2 separate regions of the Homo sapiens genome follow, and region 2 is linked to region 1. Evidence: fine-mapped expression QTL. A gene starts in region 1. The other region holds a variant in brackets. All regions are shown on one strand. Distances are between the middles of the regions.

Region 1 (10,036 bases):
GCTCAAGGGATCCTCCAAACTCAGCCCCCCAAGTAGCTGGGACTAAAGGCATGCACCATCATGCCCAGCTGATTTTTAAATTTTTGTAGAGATAGGGTCTCACTGTGTTGCCCAGATTGATCTTGAACTCCTTGCCTCAAGCAATCCTCCCACCTCGGCCTCCCAAAGTGCTGTGATCACAGGCATGAACCACCACACCTGGCCAATTATTATCTTTAAATGTATTCTTATTTATTTATTTATTTATTTATTTAGAGATAGAGTTTTGCTTTGTTGCCCAGGCTGGAATGCAGTGGCATGATCGCGGCTCACTGTAAACTCGGCCTCCCAGGTTCAAGCAATTCTCATGCCTCAGCCTCCTGAGTAGCTGGGACTACAGGCTTGAGCCACCATGGCCAGCTAATTTTTTGTATTCTTAACAGAGACAAGGTTTCATTATTTGGCCAGGCTGGTCTTGAACTCCTGCCCTCAAGTGATCCAGCCACCTAGGCCTCCCAAAGTGCTGAGATTACAGGCGTGAGCCACCACACCCAGCCTTTTTAAATATATTCTTTCAAAACAAAATATTAAGGCCCTCAATTAATTTAATATTAGGAAGATAAAACACTCCAAAATCACCAGAGAACTCATCATTAATAACTGATTTGCATGTAATTCTTAAGAACATGTACATAAGGAAACCCTGTTTCCTTCTAAAATGAGGAAAAGCTAATTCTCCTAGTAACCAATTGGCGCTTATTTAGTTGGATAGGAAAGAGTTTCAAGGGTTTGAATAGGGTAGGAGGACCAAGCCTCGAAGGCAGGGGTGGGAGAGAGTTCATCAGTCTTCTCAAGTGTCTTCTCTCTCAACAGCAAGTTTCTGCTCTTCCCTAACACCAACAACAGCCACAGACCATGCTCTGTAGGAACTGGACCAAATTCAAATATTCATTTGGGACAGGGTCAGAGAGAATTCCGAGTGAAGGGATTCAAGATGACACAGCCAATCCAGAAGTTAGGCTGAATGCACTCAACTCCCCTTCCAGGCCTGGGTTTGACAGTAGAACACACAACAATTTACTAACAAAATGCTGCAGTCTGGCTTTGAGGAAACATATACAAGTCCAGCAATCTATCTTTCTAGGTCACCCTAACTCTCCTGCCCTCTCTCAAGTACACCCACACAAAGATTCTCCACTAAAAGCCCTTCATTTTCAAGACCTGTCATAATTCCAGCTAGGAAGGCCAACTATCCAGTTTGCTAGCTCCTCATAAACTTGCCACTCTGCATATCCTAGTTACTACCACTGTAACTGGGTATGCAAGGTAAGTTACATATTTAAAATACAGGCTGTTTTTCATAGAACAAAGGAAAAAGGAAAAAGACATCAATTTTATATATATATATGTTAGCAGTACCTACCAATAACAGGCTCCTAACTGTATACTGAATTGAATACTGTGTTAAACAGTGAAAAATATTAGTTTACAAAAGGTTATACATCTCCACCCTGCAGGAAAATCTAGACTTCAAGACATGAGCACAGAAATTTAAAAATCCTGACATCTACAAATAAGTTGGACACAGACCTAAGCCCCTATGAAGATAAATATTTTACCTTCAGCAATTGTAATCACTCTGCATTTTAAATGTCTTCAATTTGTCATTTTCAATCCCTGTTTTGCTTCTCACTATTTGATAATATGCAATTTCAGGTAGCTTTCTTAATCTCAGGTATAATGAAAAGTAGTTTTTTTTTTAATAAAGAAGTTTTAAAATTCAAAGATTATAAAAGAATGATGCATTCTATTAATATGATATAAATAACTTTTAATGGCCTTGTATTTCAATTCAGGATAACTAATGATATATGCCATAACCAAAGGCTTAAACCACAATAGAATCTAAATCTGCTAAGAACTAAATCTATTAGCCCTATATGAATTTAACACTTAGTCCAAGTCTCAAGTTTCCCATTTGCAAATAGCATTGTCTTTGCCTTGATTTATCCCAAGGTACTAGAATTAAAAATAGCACAAACTGACTCATCCTATAAAAAGGGAAAAACAGGTTTTTCTTTCAAAAGAAGTAAAGGAAAATATGTCTAAGTAAAAACGTACTAAAGAGCAAAACCACATAATCATTATGTAGTTTTGATCAGTGATTTTCAGGGGCAGTGGGGTAGGTAGAGGTACAAAGGGGACTTTTGGGGTAATGGAACTGTTCTGTGTCATGTGTGCGGTGCTGGTTACATGACTGTGCATCTGTCAGAATTCATAGAGGTACATTTACAGAGGCTAAATTTTACTGTATGTAAATTATACTGCTGTAGCCTAATTTTTTTAAAGTGCTATTGCATATAAAACAATGTGCTAGACACTGAATTATGAAATCTAACGTTCAAGCATACAATTCTCAAGGTTTCTAGATGTATTATCAAAAACTTATCATTAAACACTTTGAGTTCAGCCTTCAGTATTTTATATTTTATCCATATTTATATTCTATAAAACGACTCAAAGCATCACCTAAAATTATCACATGAATTTTGAATTATTATGTGTTCAACATACACTTATAGAAAATTTCCTTCTTATTCTTAAAAGTGAACATATCAATATCTATTAAATGTTAATTATATGGTTATGAGTTGAATTTACTACTAAATTCTACCTTTTCTGAATTATAAATACATTAAGAAATGTAAACTGTGATTAGATTTATTCACATCCCTCAGAACACTACGAAATGTGTCCTAAACATGTTAATTGATTTCAGAAACTTCTATGTCTTGAGCAAGACTTAAGTGTTAACAAGCATCTGATGGCTTTTAAAATAAGAATGTTTCAGAAATTCATCTAAAAAAATGCTTGAACGTAAAATGCAATCCTACGGTGTATACTCTAATGCCTGTTGATGAACAGATCCTTATAGTTTCCTTCTTCTAGAACTCATATCAAAATACATTTTCTTCAGAAAAAATAGGAGTCAAAGATGTTAATCATGTTCTTTTCATAGTCACGTTACATTTGTTTTACAACACTCTCAGAAAAGCCTTTCCTTTCACATGTTCACTTTTTAAATTACAAACATGTTTCCCCTCACTAGACACCGAGTTACGAAACTTAGAGCAAAAGTAAAACTTTCTAATGGAATGCCCATGTAAATACTAGAAATATAACAAAATAAGGCAAAGTCTGTCCTCCAAAATGTTGCCTACCACACCAAAACACAATCCTGCTTTTTAAACAGCGAGTAAAATTAAATCAACCTTATCTTCCTAAATAGAAGTCCACTCAAAGTTTTTTCACAAAAATGACATTCACTTGACTTAATATTGTCCTTCCAATAAGAATAACACGCAGGGTGTTAGAGGGCAGTTGTTGGACTCCTCTTCAGCAAATAAAGGAGACCAGTTAGAGCTTAGCTTGGTCTGCCCAGGAAAGGAGGAACGCAGCTTGCTGACATGGCTAAGGAATGCCAATTAATACATTTTAAAACCCCTATCATCTTGCCTGAGACGTGTACATCTTCCCAGGCCCTCAAAGTTCAATCAGAAAGTGTATTCAACTCCATTGTCATTTCACCCATAGTGGGGAAGTCCATCGAGGAAAACCATAGGGAAATAAAATGTTTTTCAGTTATTCATATTAGCACAATCAACCCAGAGCTCACGGCACAAACTAAATAAGTTAACTTGCCAGTGTCTTGAATGAAGACATTTAATCAAAGCATGCATTTTCCAACTTTCCAGTAGCTTTCAGGACAGTTGGTTTTGGTGATCGTTTTTTGGTCTTTTATTGTTCTCAACACGACTGGTTTCTCACCGCAGGATTTCAAACAAAATGAGACAATTAAACCACACCTCGAGCGAAGGGGCGCTTACCTTGCAGATAAACACACCGGCCTTGCCTTCTCTAAAATGCGGACACGTGCTTTTCCCGCATTAGGGGGGGTCTCCCGGCGCGCGCCCCGCCGCCACCTGTTGAGGAAAGCGAGCGCACCTCCTGCAGCTCAGGCTCCGGGCGCCAGCCCTGCCCCGCAGCCCCAGAGCCCGTCGCAGCTCGGGTGGTCCCTCCCCGGCCCAGCGCTCGCCGCCTGCTCTTCGCCCTGCAAGTTTCAAGAGGCAGTTATTTCTCGCAGCCTCCGCGCTTGCAACTGCCTCCTGGCGGGGGAGTGGGTGTCCAAAAAGCCAGCAGCTGGAGAAACTGAAAAGATCACAAGCGACTTAACGATAAGCCCCTTCTTCCTTTTAAAGACCGAGAGGAGGGTAGAGGGGAGTAGTGCCTGAGCCCACGTGACCGAGCCAGGGAGCCCGACGGTCTCAGGAACGCCCGACGCCGCGCGTGACCTCTAAGTGGGAGCACCCTCGAACCGACTCCTGGTCCACCCACAAGGATAGTGGCGCACAGATGGCGCTCCCCGCAGCCCCAGTCTCAGATTTAAGAGGTCTGGAGTAGGGCCTGAGAATATGCATTTCCAACCAGGTCCTGGGGGATGCCGACACTGATACAGCCAGTCTGGGGACCACACTTCGAGGATCACGTCCTCAGCCCCTGACTCACATAAGTGTCATTCAGAACAGATGTCTGATTCTAAGGAGCCAGTGGTGAAACCAGAGAGGCTTTGGGTTTGTCAAATCCCCAGCAGCAAACGTAACCTCGGGCCCTGGAGTGGCAAAGCCGTGGACTAGAGGTGGAGGGAGTGGGTTCTCAGCTCTCAAGAGGTCACTGGGAAGGCCTTTCGCGTTAGATCAAAGATCCCAGGTACTTCCTCGAACTCACTTGAAGTGGCACCGGGGAGACCTGTGCCTCCGGCCACGGCGCCCTTCTCCGCTGGAGGCACCTGCCCACCCCTCTTCTCGGGCGAAGGCCCCTCGCGCCCCCTGGTGGCAGCCCCAGTTCCCCCAGCTTAATGGGGTGTTCCCCTCACCCACCCCAGCAGGAGCCCCAGGGTGCGAGACTAGGACCACAGTCTTAACTGGCTTTAAGGCAGCTGTTGCTGATGAAAATGAAAAGGAAAGTAGCATGTGACCCACAGGCCATTGTGAGAACCCCCCAGTGTCACATCTGTGCCTAATTAATCATCAAACCATCTACTCAGGTGGCATAAGGGACATGGTTTTTGAGGGTTGTGATCCAGATCTCTAATAGAGGAAGACGAGGGGGGGCATTTGGAGGGAAAGTTTTACAGTACCAGCCTCAGCTGTTTGGTGTTTAGCCAAAATAGAGAGACGCAAGTGTGCTCTGGGTTGATAAAGATGAGGTCCACAGGTAATGAAGACAGGCTCCAAAGATGGAGAAGCATCTGCTTCATCAGCTAAACAATAGCTGTGAAAAGTCTCCACTGCCCCACCCTAAGTCCAATTTTCATTAAAGCTGAGAGTCCTGGTTTCTCTCAGGTTGAAAGGCAGAGTCTCCCTGTCCTTGAGGCAGAGAAGTTAGTTTGGACGGGAAGAGTGTGTCGCTGGCAAATAACTGCAGCAGACAACATGCCAATCTCAGCCTCCCTGTCTCCTGTCCTGGGGTCTCTCAAAGTACCCAGTCCCCATATGCTCTTCCTCCTTGCCACCTTATGGAGAAAATGTTAAATGATGGTTTAAAAAAATCAGCTTCATGGCCAGGCATGGTGGCTCACACCTATAATCTCAGCACTTTGGGAGGCCGAGGCAGGTGGATCACGAGGTCAGGAGTTTGAGACCAGCCTGACCAACATGGTGAAACCTCGTCTCTACTAAAAATACAAAAATTGGCTGGACGTGGTGGCACATGCCAGTAATCCCAGCTACTCAGGAGGCTGAGGCAGGAGAATCGCTTGAACATGGGAGGCGGAGGTTGCAGTGAGCCAAGATCGCGCCACTGCATTCCAGCCTGGGCGACAGAGCGAGACTCTGTCTCAAAAAAAAAAAAAAAAAAAAAAATCAGCTTCATTTGGTGGTATATACTTGTTAACAAGATATCTCTGGAAATGGAAACCGTCATGAAGGAATTTCAACCATAAGCCAACAGGCAGAAAAAGATAGGTGAGGGTGAAGAAAATGCATCTATCAATATTAACATCATACCTGACGCTGTGCTAAGCACCTGCACAGCATCTCATTTAATCCTCACACCAGCTCAGTGAGATATTGACTCCACTTTTCCAGTGAGGAAATTGAGGCTCACAGAGCTTCTGTCAGCTACCTGAAGCCACCTAGTGAGAAAGGAACCCAGTAACAACAGTGGCTTCATAGACAGCTACCGCTTATTGGACATTTATGCCCCGCTTTCTCTCAATAATTCTTATTTTATACGCAAGCCTATAAGGCAAATTCTATTACCCCCATTTTATACTTGAGAAAATGAATGTTCAGGAAGGTTAAACAACCTCCCTATGGTCACATGACCTATCAGTGGCTAAGAAGGACTTGAATCCAGGAGAGAGGCCAAGGACCCATTTACCTCCATACCATGCCTCCAATCAATCAGAATGAAAATGGCTTGACTCTCTGCTCTATGCAGAACACTGCAGACAAACTTCTGCCACCTGTGTGCCAAGCTTCTGCTCTGTGTTCACTGTGATGCTTCCTTCAGAAGGCATTCTACACACAGGAACAGCATGTTCTCTTTTCAGAGCAGCTCAAACACCCACAGAAGCTGTTTATTATACAAGGAAACCTCACTGCAGGAAATAATAAGCAGAAAATGAATGGGAGTGAGTAAGTTTCCTTCTGACTCACCCTGTCCATCAAGAAAGACAATGGTACCCAGAGATGGAAACTTTGCCTGGTTTAATGCAGAGTGGAGAGGATGATTATTCCAATTCTACCTGAATTGTGACCACAATGATGAAGGGATTATTCTTGAGGCAGTTCATACCAATGGCTAGACCAAAAAGCCCCCTGAAGCCTGGTATTGAGAACGATGCCTGCTATATAAGTGAGCAGGGTCCCAGCCTCATTTCCACCTCACCCCTGACCTGCCTAAGGAAGCACCCACATATGACATTGAAAGGACTGCCTGTCTCCAAAATATCCTACAATGGGGATTGAAATTGTCACCATTAAGTCATCTTTTGGGGATAAAGCATTGAATTGTTAAAATTAAGTCATGTTATATATGATGGGTAATATTAACTTACTAGCATTTATGATTAACAAGATGAGCTTGCAGCATGAGCTAGATGTCACCTGGGAAAGCAAAGGAAGTCAATGTAGTACAGGTATGGTTTGCTGTGAAGAGGAAGGAAAGCCTCTCCATAAAAGGTGCACCTTCCTCATCTTCTCACCCCACCCCTTCTCTGTCTAGCAAAGTCTTACACATCCCAAAGCCAAGAGCCTAAATAAGGTGAAGAGCACATTAGCCCAGTGGAACGTGCACATTGGCTCCCCCACAGCCCTCATCTTACCTGTCAACACAACCTGCGCTGCGATTGGACAGCGCATGTCTTACATCTCTAGCATTCTCCATGGTCCATAACACCCACCTAGCACAATCCACGCGTTCAACAAATGTTTGCTGAAGCCTTTGACTTGGAAAGATCAGAGGGAGAATTTTCCGTAGGAAAGAAACTACCAAGAGGCAAAACAAAACCCTGTAAAAGGCAAGAAAGCAAAAGCTAATAGGAAAAGTGGAGGGAAAGGAGGAATGCTACAGATGTCTAGAAGGGTGTCATGCCAAAGGGTGCCTTTGGATTGTTGCTTTATTCTCTGAGCTTGAAGCCAAGTAGGAGGATTTGGGTTCTGGGATAGTTATCTGCTCCAGAGTGTTATAGGAACAAGCTTATTTATATTATGTGGGTATAAATTGGTCTGTTTTAAGAGAATCTGAGAGATAAAACCCTACACTTATGGAATTAATAAAGGGGAAAGATTAATTGAACGTGCAATAACACCTTTTTTTGGTGGTGATGAATGAAAAAGATAGGATTACTAATTAATATGTCAGAGATCATCTCAACTGAACATAAAGTTCACAAAATGTGATTTGACATTTGAAACTTGAATTTGGATAGAGCTCTTTAGGATCACATCTTTTGTAGAAATAAAAACAAACCTAATATTTATTGAGCATTTTTCTAGCCTGGACACCACAGTAGGCAGGCTTGCATAGGTTGATTCACTTTTATTTCATTTAATCCTTGAAAATTCCCTGGGACTGTCTATTTTACAGATGGGAAAACTGAGGCTCAGAGAGCTAACATTTATTTTATAAAGTCACCCATGTGCATTTGGTAGGGTGAAAGTTTCCACCCAACTTTACCTACCTACCTGCACATCCCATGTTTTCTCCACTGTCATGAGATGCTGTTCTTATTTGTTGCATAAATGGAGGCATGTCTGTCCTGTAGAGCCCAGATACTGTTGAATGAAATGTTGTCAATTTCTTGTCTAGGAATGACCACCTATGAGCATATTTATGTAACTTATTCTTTATTGATCTGCGTTGGACTGGGGCCCTCAGAGGGTAACAAGGACATAAGCAGCAAGACAGACCCAACCTGATACCTGGGCACCAGGACCATGAGACAAGGTTGCTCTGACCTGCAGTTTAAATGAACCACCTGAGCAAGCAGCACCTGCAGCCAACTCTTTCTAAATCACACTCATGTGTTTCAGTCTTGATCTTTGCTATTTGTAAACAAACAGGTAAAAAATAACTTTTTGTCCTGTCCACTGCCCCTCAAAGGTACTTAAATTCCACACAAATCCCTTGCATACCTTAAGTTTCTAATTTTCTATGCATTTGAAATCAAACATGAAGCATACACATTTTTGTCCTTACTTCCAACTCTGCAGCAATTCTCTTGAGCTAGAAGAGAAACTAGCCCCTAGAGGTCATTGGCATGAATGTGAACACCCAGTTAAGAAAAAAAAAAAAAAAAGTTATAGGACTGTTAGAAATGGCGGCAAATTGTAATATGCAATTTCACAAATGACTCAAATGCAATTCTGAAAATGCAGCTTCCTTACATTTTCTGGCTCAGAAGATATTAATAAGTCAGCCAGTGTAATATTCCCTGAAATGAGATAAAAAAAAAAAAGGTACAGACAGACATGGCTTGAGACCATAGATAAGACTGTCTGATTTCATAGTTTAATATTTCAAAAAATATTTCAAAAATTTTGACTAAAGTTTTTTCTACATCTTCTTGTAAATGTATCTAACATTTTCAATTTCTTTGTTCATATCATGGAAAGTTACTATAACTGCCTCATATTGTCCTTTAGACCCATAGCAACTAACTCTCCAGTGATGCTCATTACAGAAATAGCTTTTTTTTTTTTTTTTTTTGAGACGGAGTCTCGCTCTGTCGCCCAGGCTAGAGTGCAGTGGCACAATCTTCCGCCTCAGCCCCCCAAGTAGCTGAGACTACAGGCACCCACCACCACACCCGGCTAATTTTTTTGTATTTTTTTAGTAGAGACAGGGTTTCACCGTGGTAGCCAGGATGGTCTCGATCTCCTGGCCTCCTGATCCACCCGCCTCCGCCTCCCAAAGTGCTGGGATTACAGGCGTCAGCCACCGCGCCCAGCCCAGAAATGGCTTTTATAAAAATACAGACTTGATTTTTTGTGCACAGAGCGTGCTTCTTTCACATATGTCACCGTTTGATCTGATGAACCTAACCAGAGAAAGGAATCGTTTTCTTCTCTCTTATTCAGTCCTCTCCTTTGCTGGGAATTATAAACAGAAAATGAACTTCTCCAAGTAGTTCATGCAGCTACTTAAGGATCACCAATGCTGTTCCATGGGCCAGGATCTCTGCATTCTCCTCTCCCCTCACATTGTTTCTCTTCCTTTTACATTCTCACATATTATTTTTCTACTGTCCAGGCAGTTTAGCTAACTAGCTTCTTAATGGTTCTGCTCATAGTCAAGTCAAGTGCTTCCTCAGCCTGCTCCACGTATTCTACCACGCCACCAGCCACAGCTTACTAGGAGGACTGCTGTCCTGGCATGACACTGGCTTCTAGTTAACAAAGAACTTGCATGGCCACATCATGCTGCATGTTCACACCAACCCTACAATGTTGATTTTATCACCAATTTGCTGACAAGGAAACTTGAGGGTGTT
Region 2 (10,036 bases), 58 kb before region 1:
AATTGTTTAAAACGTTACTGCAATAATGAAACATGATTATTTAATTGCTGGCTTCCATAGTATGCTGTTACTCATTTTACATATTCACCGTGTATCCAAAACTGGAAATTTCACATCTTTTAAAAGGTGAGTTAAAGTTGTCATTTCAGAGGTGCCCTTCTTCATGTCCTATTTATGTTCCACTTGGAATAAGAACTAATATTTTTACTGTTTCTTTTTCACCCTGCCCACCATATAAATTTTCCAATAAGAAAATATTTTTAAAAGAGCTCTCAAGTGTAAAAGAATTCTTTCTTGCTATAAATAATTATCCCTAAATATTTCTCTTTAAGGAGAGTTCACAAACTGGGTCTTGTTCAAGGGGCGTACTCATCAAGGCTATACAGTGTGGCCCCAGAGCTGACACACTGGGGTGCATAGCTACTCATCCATCCATAAAACAGCACACTGCACACATCCACAGCCCAAAGTATCCCTGACTACTTGTGGTGACTGATGGGGCAATTGTGGCTGCTACTTATGAGGTTGTACAAGATGGAAACTGCATCCACATTGCCCCAGGGAAACACTGTGGCTGTCACCCACACCCACAGGAGAGAACCCCATTCCTGCAAACACGGCCTTTCTCCAGCACCCACGCTGGCCCCATGGGACAACAGGTTTAAGGAAGAGCAGCTCCAGAAGCAGCGAGATTTGTATCTCCCACAGTCCTGCATGAAAATGATCACACGCTCATACACACATACCCCAAATTATTGGCAGGCTCTGTGAATACAAATCGAGAGGGACAAATCTGTGTGCAGCTGGCAGCAAGGTCAGGGAGAGAACATGACTCACATCCCAGCTTAACCACAGTCCCTCTGGCCTTTGACAGAATAAGCATCATATGATATGATCAGTCCCCACAGGCCTGGGAGGTAAGTACGCAATTGCCACAGGGGTTTTCAATCTTACAATGGAGTGGTCCGGAAAACAGCAAAGGTCAACTCTCAGAGGGAAGGGTAGTGTGTGCCACACAAGAAGGGTTAGCCCACTTCTGTAAGCGTGTCACTTCCTCTCCCCTTTCTGATTCGCAGCCCTTCCAAGTCAGATTTCCACCATTCATTCCAAAACCTTTAAGATGTTTCACAAAGGGGAGGAAGGAAGAAGGAAAGTAAGAAAGACCACACTGAGATCCTATGAGGCCATTGAGTGTGGAAACGCTGCATTCAAATGTGCCCTCTGCTAACAAGGGAAACTATGGCTTCCTCACACCGACTCCTGAGAGTTGGGAAGGTGGAGGGAAGGATGGTACATGACCAAGCCTGCCATCACCAAATGAGGGACCACACAGCAGAAAGATGAAGCCCAGGCTCCTGACACACTGGAGTTCACGCTTCAGCCTGTGACCTCTGTGGGCCAGTTCACCTCAGGGCCAGGCGTCACTGAGACTGTGGGTTCTGGGAGCCCTCTTTGCTTTTACTGTCCTCTGCCGGGCTGCACTCGGACCCCGTGATGGAGGACTTGCACCCGCGAAGCACGTGGGCATTCAGCATCTCCAGCAGCAGGTCATACACTGGGACCACATTTTTGCACTTCATGTTGAGCAGATGTTCCATGCCCTTGTTACTATGGGGACAAAAAGGTGCTGAGATTCCCTCCTCCGAGGCAGCCACAGGAACCCCGAAGCCTTCCCCGGCTCTCTTTGCTCAGAGCCAGTCTACCCCACCCCTAAACCCACTCTTCCCCCAGCCCATTTATCCATGGCTCGTGCATCCAGCTCCCCCTGATAATTTAGGCTCAAGGGCAAGGACGATGTCTTGTCAGCCTCTGTGTCCCACCACACACCTACAATGGCCTGACACATAGGACAATCAATCCTCATTGTTTGCGGTAATTATGTTCCGTAAAGTCACTGTGAACACTGAATCCTCACTCATAGGGGAAATACAGGGTTAGGTTCCTGCAAGCCTCTGGCCACATCTTCATCAGCTGATCAATACAAAACCTTGTTTTATGTGTGTTTCTTTCTAAAGATGCCTTATGTGATAAATACCATTGACTCATTAACATTGAACTCATGGCCAGCAGCACTATAACTCACACCCGAGCAAAGCTTAACACATACTTTCTCCATAAGGCACATCACAGCTTTTTCACACCGAGGAACACTAGACAGGTCTTCAGCACCACACCAGGGGGGCATTTTAAACAGTGAAGTCACCAAAAGCACAAAAATGTAAAACCATGGCACTAAGTAGACCAAGTAAAGGACACTTGTTGACAGTATGAGAGCAGCTGCTTGTTCCATCTCAGCTGGGACTGTACATAAAGGGCAACTCAAAATTTCTGCCACTCTGTTCATGACCTCAAAAACACCACAAATATTGATTTTGGGGTTACAAATAAATTTTAGCAAGCAGATAAATTCACAATGAAGGAATCTACAAACACAGGATCTGTTCTGCAAATGGCTATGTGCTGAGCAATCATTAAAGGGGAAAGGCAGAGGTCTTCATCTCACTTAAGATTCTCGAGGTGTATATTGTCCTTCTCCACAGCCTCTAGACTTGCCTCCTCAGTGACCAGTTAATTACCTTCCACCCTCCCCTCCCCTCCTCCAGCTCCAGGGCAAGGCTACCCTCATCGTGGGTGACACCAAGCACTGAGCATCATTGTACCAACAGTAGCCACCACTGCACACCCTCTTCATCAGCACACACAATTACGTTTCCTGATCAGAAACATGCCCTACCTACAGCCCTGCCTTCCTAAATCTGCTGGGTCCACCACTTCTCTTAAGTCTTATCCTTAATTTCCTGATGCCACCGAAAGAACAACTCTTAGGGAAGCATTTGTGCACTTCTTCGCATCACCAGCTCGAGGGGCCATCTAGGGGAGCGGGTCTTAGCCTCTCCACAAAAAGTGGCCTCAGGGCCTCAGCCCTGGGTGGTGTAAACAGGGGTGGCAGTTCGTGTTAGGGGAGGAACTGCCCCTTTTAGGACTCCATAAACAGGCTATAAACCCCAGCAATTGAAAAACCCATGAGCCACCACTGGCTGCCATGCAGAGCCTGTAAGATACCACATGACATTCCTTCCATGCCCACTCTGTGCCCATCTTTGCTTACAGGTGTGTGAACTGACAAATTCCCCATTCCCTTTCAGGCATTCATTTTCCTTAACTTGCAGACACTTTTCCCAAATCACTTCACCCTCCGTGGAGCACATAATCCCATCCCAAGCCCAAGCAGAGCAGCTCCTTAGGGCGCGTACCTCGCATGCCTGACGTGGGACAGGAGCATCAGGAGGTTAGCCAGGCGCATGGATTGCTGCTGGGAGGAGATGCCGCTCTTGGCAATCACCCAAACCAAAGCATCGGTCACGGCGTTCAGCAAGTGAGCCAGCTTCCGGCTGCTGTCAGCATCCTGGGTCGCTGTGACCAGAGGGTACATACCTGGACAAAGAATAAAAGCCAGAAGTCATTGCTCTGAGCAAAGGAGCAGAAGTCGTGTGCTCAGCTGTTCCGTGCGCCTGCTCCGAGGTGATCTGGGTTGCTTTGACAGCTGCATGTGTGGCAGGAGCTTATAAGCATGGTCTTACCTCCCCCAGGGGATCTTCCCTGAGAGCCAGCCCCGTCACAGAGCTAGAAGAGAAGCCTGGCCTAATGCAGACAGACTAAATTGCCACCTGAAGTGTCCACCAGGCCCATAATTGTGGCCTTGCCGTGGCGAGTATATCTAGTCTCCCGAAATCATTACGTGGTGTTTCTCATCTGCAGCAACAGATACAGAGATGGTCAGAAAGTGAGATTAATTCTACTTTTAGCCCCACGGAGGGCTCCCCATCTAAAGGGAGTTTAATAAACAAAGGAATGGCCAATGTGATGAAGCCTCCTCTGCCACCTCCTTGTGTGTACCACGTGCCGCAGCCAGCCATGGCAGGGCCCCTGCTACCACCTCTGCATCTCGCTTGAGTGGCACCTGGCTGGGGCAGGAAGACCACTGATTTGGAGTCAGACAGACCTACTTTCTAGCCACCATCTGGAGCTCTCTGAGCCTCAGTTCCTCACTGAGCAACGCATGCAGGAACACATCTGCTTAGGTCCCCACAGCCACGTCCTGGGTAGGCTGCCTCCCCCATCCTGCCCTGCCCTGTGTTTAACTCCCCTCCAACTCTAGGATTGAGATACTGTGGCATCCCAATGGCAGCAAAGTAACAGCTCAGATAAATCTCCTCCCCCCGACCCCTGCCTGACTCCTTGATTCCCTTTAATAATTAGCTTCTCTTCCAGGCTTTCCATTTCAAAGCAAGAATAAATATGTGAAATCAACCAGGGAGCTGCTGAGTCTTGGCTGTCATGAGACTGATGATGGCTGGTGCTCCAGCAACCACAGAATTTGTTTTGGCAGTTTTTGTTCTCTATTTTTATTGGCACTTTCAGTTCAATTAAGGCAGCTCAATTCAACTAAGTTTAACTCAGGTAAGGCAAGGGACATTCTGAAGCACAATTACGTAAGTGTAGTGCTTTGCCACATCCCTAGGGACCTCCATAATGTCTGATGATACGAATTTAAAATATTCATCTTTTCAATAGCCCTGAAGCTGCTTCTCCAATCCCTGTGCTCACTTTGTTCTCCACATTGGTTCTTCCAGAATCCCCCCACAGCCTCAAACCTCCCACTGTCGCCCCAGAGATGACTTGCCCTCCCACCGCAGGGGAAACAAGACCCCACCCTTGGCCCCGTGTGTCCCCTTCTGAGAGGCCAAAAAGCAGATCTGCTCATGGGGCTCCGTTTAATGACTTCCCAGCTCATAGGATAGAGTCCAAACCACCTGGTGCAGCTATCAGAGGTACCAGGGCCCTCCCCGCTTCTCTCATCTGCAGTTCCCACCACACCTCGCCTTGAGTCCCCCTCTCAACTCCCTGAATGTGTGGTGCTCCGAACATGCTCAACTTGCTGCTTGGAAACTCTCTCCTTCCTCTTTCTCTACCCTGATTCTTTTGCTCATTTATACCCATTCCTCCTGTAGATTCCAACCTGGTCAGAAATTCCTTCTGGAAGCTTCCCCCAACCTCCCTACCATCCCACCCTAAGTCTGGTCTGAGGTGTCCCCTGATACTCTGACAGTGCCCTGTTCATCCTCAGCAGAGACACCATGTTGCCCCACATGCTGGAT[G/T]TCTGCCTTGTCCCCACACACACCCCACAGCCACCCTTCTGCCCTCAGCAAGACTGGACATGAGTGCTTTGAGGGCACAGACCTTTTTTTTTTTTTCTTTTCTTGAGACAGAGTCTCACTCTGTCACCCAGCCTGGAGTGCAGTGGTACAATCTCAGCTCACTGCAACCTCCGCCTCCCGGTTTCAAGCAATTCTCCTGCCTCAGCCTCCTTAGTAGCTGGGATTACAGGCATGCGCCACCATGCCCAGCAAATTTTTTGTATTTTCAGTAGAGACAGTGTTTCACCATGCTGGCCAGGCTGGTCTCAAACTCCTGACCTCGCAATCCGCCTGCCTCAGCCTCCCAAAGTGCTGGGATTACAAGCGTGAGCCACTGTGCCCGGCCAGACCCTTATTTTTTTTAGCCAAACACACATCATATTTGAAATGGTAAATATGCATGCTAATGTATGTTTTAGGTACACACAGAAAATTATCAAAAGTACAGAGAAAATTATTTCAAGCTTACTTTCCCTAAAATTAACCCCATCTGCATAAACAAGTACTTCCTTTTAACTACCCCGTAGTGTGTTCAGCTGCATGACATGTGCTCCATGGACTTCCGCTGCCATCAAGCAATACTATGTCTGGGAATTCCAAAAGGAGCCAAAATTGTGTGCCTGTACATGTCTCAGTTCAAAGTGACAAAGATTGAAAATATAAAAACAAATCCTCAGATTATAAACAAATGTTCATAGCAGCATAACTCAGCCTAAAAGTGGAATGTCCACTAACTGACGAATGGCTCAACAAAATGTGGTCTATCCATACAGTGGAATAGTATTCAGCTACGAAAAGGAATGAGGTACTGATACAGATGAACCTTGAAAACATCAGGCTAAGCAAAATAAGCCAGACACAAAGGACCACATGTTGTATGATTCCATTTATAATAAAATGTCTAGAATAGGCAAATCCATAGAGTCAGAAAAGCAAATTAGTGGTTGCCTAGGGCTGTGGGTGGGATAGGGAGTGGGAAATGATGGCTAAGAAGCATGGGGTTTCTTTTCAGGTGATGAAAATGTTCTAAAATTGATGGTGGTGATGGTTGCACCACATACCGTGAATAAACTAAAAACATTGAACTGTATACTTAATATGGATAAATTATATGGTAAATGAATTATATCACAATAAAGCTGTTACTAAAAATAATAGTAATAATAATAATAAAAGAACGCCTCAGAACCAAAGTTACAATAACATAAATTCCCTGGGCTGTGTGCAACGAAGTTTCCCCTCAGAGAACACGTATGTGTCATTGTGTTACCCACTTCACGAACCACAGTCATTGCCAAGGCCAGACCCTGGGCCTTCTGCAGGCTGTAGGGGCAGCACAGCTCCACCTGGGGCCCAGAGTCCATCAGCCACAGCGGTTTGGGGAGGTGAGGCACTGCAGTTGTGGAAAGGCATATGCGAAATCCATTTTACATATGGTGGGGTAGGGGGGCAGTGTATATACAAAAAGACTGACTTACATAAAATTATCCTGGAGACTCCTGTTCTCATTGATCACATAGAAAAGAAATACCCTCCCAGAAAAGAACTGTGCTGAAGAATACCCATGCTGCTGCCTGGCTCTCCAGTCAGCAGTGCGTGCCTGCACCTCAGACATCCATGCTCAGGCCCTTGCTCATCAAATACATATCTACAGAGTACTTGCTAAGTGGCAGGCCCTGGGCAGCATGGGGCAAGGGACAAGATCCAAAGCTCTGCCCAGTCAGGCACAGAAAACCACAAAAATATAGCACCCTCTCCATCCCCCAAAAGTAAAAACATCAGTTAGGATTCACTGTAAAACAAAATTAAATTACTTTTGATGAAACGGAAGAAGTATAGTTTAAAAAAAAAAAACAAAAAAAACCAAGATCTTGGCACCATGCCTCACACATACCAAAGAAAGTGAAATAAAATCAAGGACACAATCTTCTCTCCCCTTTATCAGCTGGGAACAGCTGTGTGCTCCTCTCACCAGCCCACCTGGTGACATTCTGAGCAGCACAGTGGTGGGGGACAGCCACCTCTCCTTCAAGATTTGCCACGTCTGATTTGTTCAAAGGATGAAAACATAAGCTTTCCTTGACTGAAGGCAAATAAATGAGAAAAATCTAATGTGCTAATAGAAGTCCCAGAATACTGACCAAAGGGAAGAAGTCCTGGCTTTGGGGAGCCGTATGTGGCGTTTGCTTGTTTGCTTTGAGGAAAGGAACCTCTGGCCATGACCCACGCCCTCTGTCACCACCTCCTGCCCCCAGCACATGAGGGCAGATGGGACTCAAAAGGTGCCATGGTGTGAGGCTGCAGGCTGCTGTTCAACTGTGCTTTGCCCCAGTGTTCTTGGTCAACAGAAAAGGACCCCCGCATCTTTCCTCATCAGCATCCATCTATGTCTTTGTCTTCTCCACCCACCCACTCCATGGGAACTCTCCCTATAAACTCAGAGGGAACTAGGGTTTAAGCCAGTGTCTCTTAATAATTTTCTTAATGTAAAATAGGATTTCCTGGCTTAACCCCTCTATTTCTTTCATTTAATGAAAAGTTTCATCCTTTGTAAATCTTAAAACTGTTTAAATAGACTTGTTTCTAATTTAAAATATTTTAAAGACTATGGATAATCAATGTAATTAATTACACTCTAATTCCTAAATTCCATACCCCCTCTAATTCTATCCAAGGGAGGATTTGGGTGGCAAGATGGCCAGTCTGTCTGTTGGGTGTTGGGTAGGCTATTTTATTAACTATGACACTTGCATAACACCTTAGAGTTTATAAAAACACTCTAACAAGCATTGTAACAGGTTGTTAAATGCAACATTTTTCTGTTGTCTCTTACTCTCAAGAGCCATATCAAAGGCTAAGTATGATACAGGAATTCCAAGTACCACACAACCTATATATGCATAGTGGAAGAGGATTGGCTGAGAGAGTTAGAATGTTGTGGTCCTTTCCCTTGCCTCCCCAAGAGAGAAATATGTGCCTCTCCACTTAAGCCCACCATGGATCAGACCTTTGATTAACTATTTGAGTATATATCCCATTCTAGACCAAAAGCATTATATCTAAATCATTTTGACATCCTTAGTATTTAGAAGTCATTAATATACATACCAGAAACTGAGCTGAAATTTAGCTGGATGACACAGTTAATTTCCATTCCATATTATAGCCATTATTAGTAGATATGCATAACCCAGAAATGGGCAGCTTTTAAAACATGACTACTGACAAACCGCGACCTGGCCAGCTAGCGTGCTGTACCACTGCAGATGTGATTGAGTGACATAATCCTAACTTAAGCATGTCACATACACAGGAAAACAGGAGACCAAACTATGCAGGAGACCATCGTCAGACAGCCCAATGCTTATCTAGCCTGGCAAGGCCATCTAGCAGCAACCAAATGCAGCGCTTGGAAACTCTGCTATCCTAACATGGAATAGAGAAGTTCGCAGCCTTTTGACTTAAGAGACCTACCCCCATTTCTCCTCTCCTGACCCTTATCCTCCAGGGCCTCCACCCTGTGATTTGGTTCCCCGCTTGGTGGTATTTCTTTTCCATTTAGCCTACAAACTTTGCTCTCTTAATCTTTTTGTTTTGCTTTCATTACATTGTTTACAGATTCATCCAGGTATACCTGACATGCAATAACCTGCACATATTTTGCGTGTACGATTTGATGTACTTTGACATACATATACATGGTGGAGCCATCACCACAACCAAGATAATGAACACACTCAGCTGCAAGTTTTTGCATTCAGTAGAAACTGTACTTCCAGTACACATACAACCATTGTGTTTTTTCGTTTTTCAGTACAGTAACTTTCAGTATTCCATAAATTACATGAAATGTTCATTACTGTATTATAAAATAGGCTTTATATTAGATGATTTTGCCCAACTGCAGGGTAATGTAAGTATTCTGAACACATTTAAGATAGGCTAGGCTGGCCGGGCGCGGTGGCTCACGCTTGTAATCCCAGCACTTTGGGAGGCCGAGGCGGGCGGATCACGAGATCAGGAGATCGAGACCATCCTGGCTAACACGGTGAAACCCCGTCTCTACTAAAAATACAAAAAAAATTAGCCGGGCGTGATGGTGGGCGCCTGTAGTCCCAGCTACTGGGGAGGCTGAGGCAGGAGAATGGCGTGAACCCTGGAGGCGGAGCTTGCAGTGAGCCGAGATTGCGCCACTGCACTCCCGCCTGGGCCACAGAGCGAGACTCCGTCTCAAAAAAAAAAAAAAAAAAAAAAAAAGATAGGCTAGGCTAAGCTATGATGTTCAGTAGGTTAGGTGTGTTAAGTATATTTTTGACTAGCAATATTTTCAACTTAAGATGGGTTTTTTGGGAAATCACCCCATCATAAATTGAGGAACATCTGTAGTTGTATAGATTATTTCTGGACTCTCTGTTCCATTGATCTATTTGTTTCTGTTGACATCAATACCACATTATCTTCTAAATCAGGTAGTGTAAGTCCTCCCAGTTTGTTCTTTTTCAAAGTTGTTTTGACTATTCTATGTCCATTGCATTTTCACATGATTTTAAGAATCAGCTTATCAATTTCTACCAAAAAGCCTCCTGGGATTTTTATCAGTTTGAATCTATAGATTGAAAACAATACTGAATCTTATGATCCATTAACATCTCTCTCCATTTATTCAGGATTTCTTTAATTTCCTTCAGCTATATTTTGCAGTGTTTAGTGTGCAGGTTTCATGTCTTTTGCAAGTTTATTCCCAAGGTTTCACAATGTTTGATGCTATTGTAAATGGTAGTGGTTTTTCATTTCAATTTCCAATTGCTCACTGGTGCCACACAGAAATACAATTGATT

Direction of the effects. Positions count from the first base shown, and alleles are read on the strand shown. Sizes are in standard deviations (SD) of each study's normalised expression.
With allele G in place of T in region 2, the expression in atrial appendage of the gene that starts at base 4,205 in region 1 is higher (small effect, 0.33 SD a copy in GTEx).

The links. PIP is the estimated chance that this variant, and not a neighbour inherited with it, causes the effect.
Region 2: its variant is fine-mapped to the expression of ESR2 in atrial appendage (GTEx, PIP 0.97).

Annotation. Positions count from the first base shown.
Region 1 is chr14:64,290,167-64,300,202 of GRCh38, forward strand. ESR2 (estrogen receptor 2) reads right to left here and starts at 4,205. Exons shown (of 9, transcript NM_001437.3): 1 at 3,867-4,205.
Region 2 is chr14:64,231,716-64,241,751 of GRCh38, forward strand. It overlaps ESR2 (estrogen receptor 2), which reads right to left. Exons shown (of 9, transcript NM_001437.3): 8 at 3,255-3,435; 9 at 1-1,608. The coding sequence ends at 1,422. LOC124903328 (a long non-coding RNA gene) reads left to right here. Exons shown (of 2, transcript XR_007064205.1): 2 at 3,147-3,472. Among named protein-coding and RNA genes, the nearest start is that of ESR2, 58 kb to the right of the region's middle. RefSeq lists enhancers at 696-765, 3,429-3,488, 4,129-4,398. The variant G/T (reference allele first, on the strand shown) is at 5,160.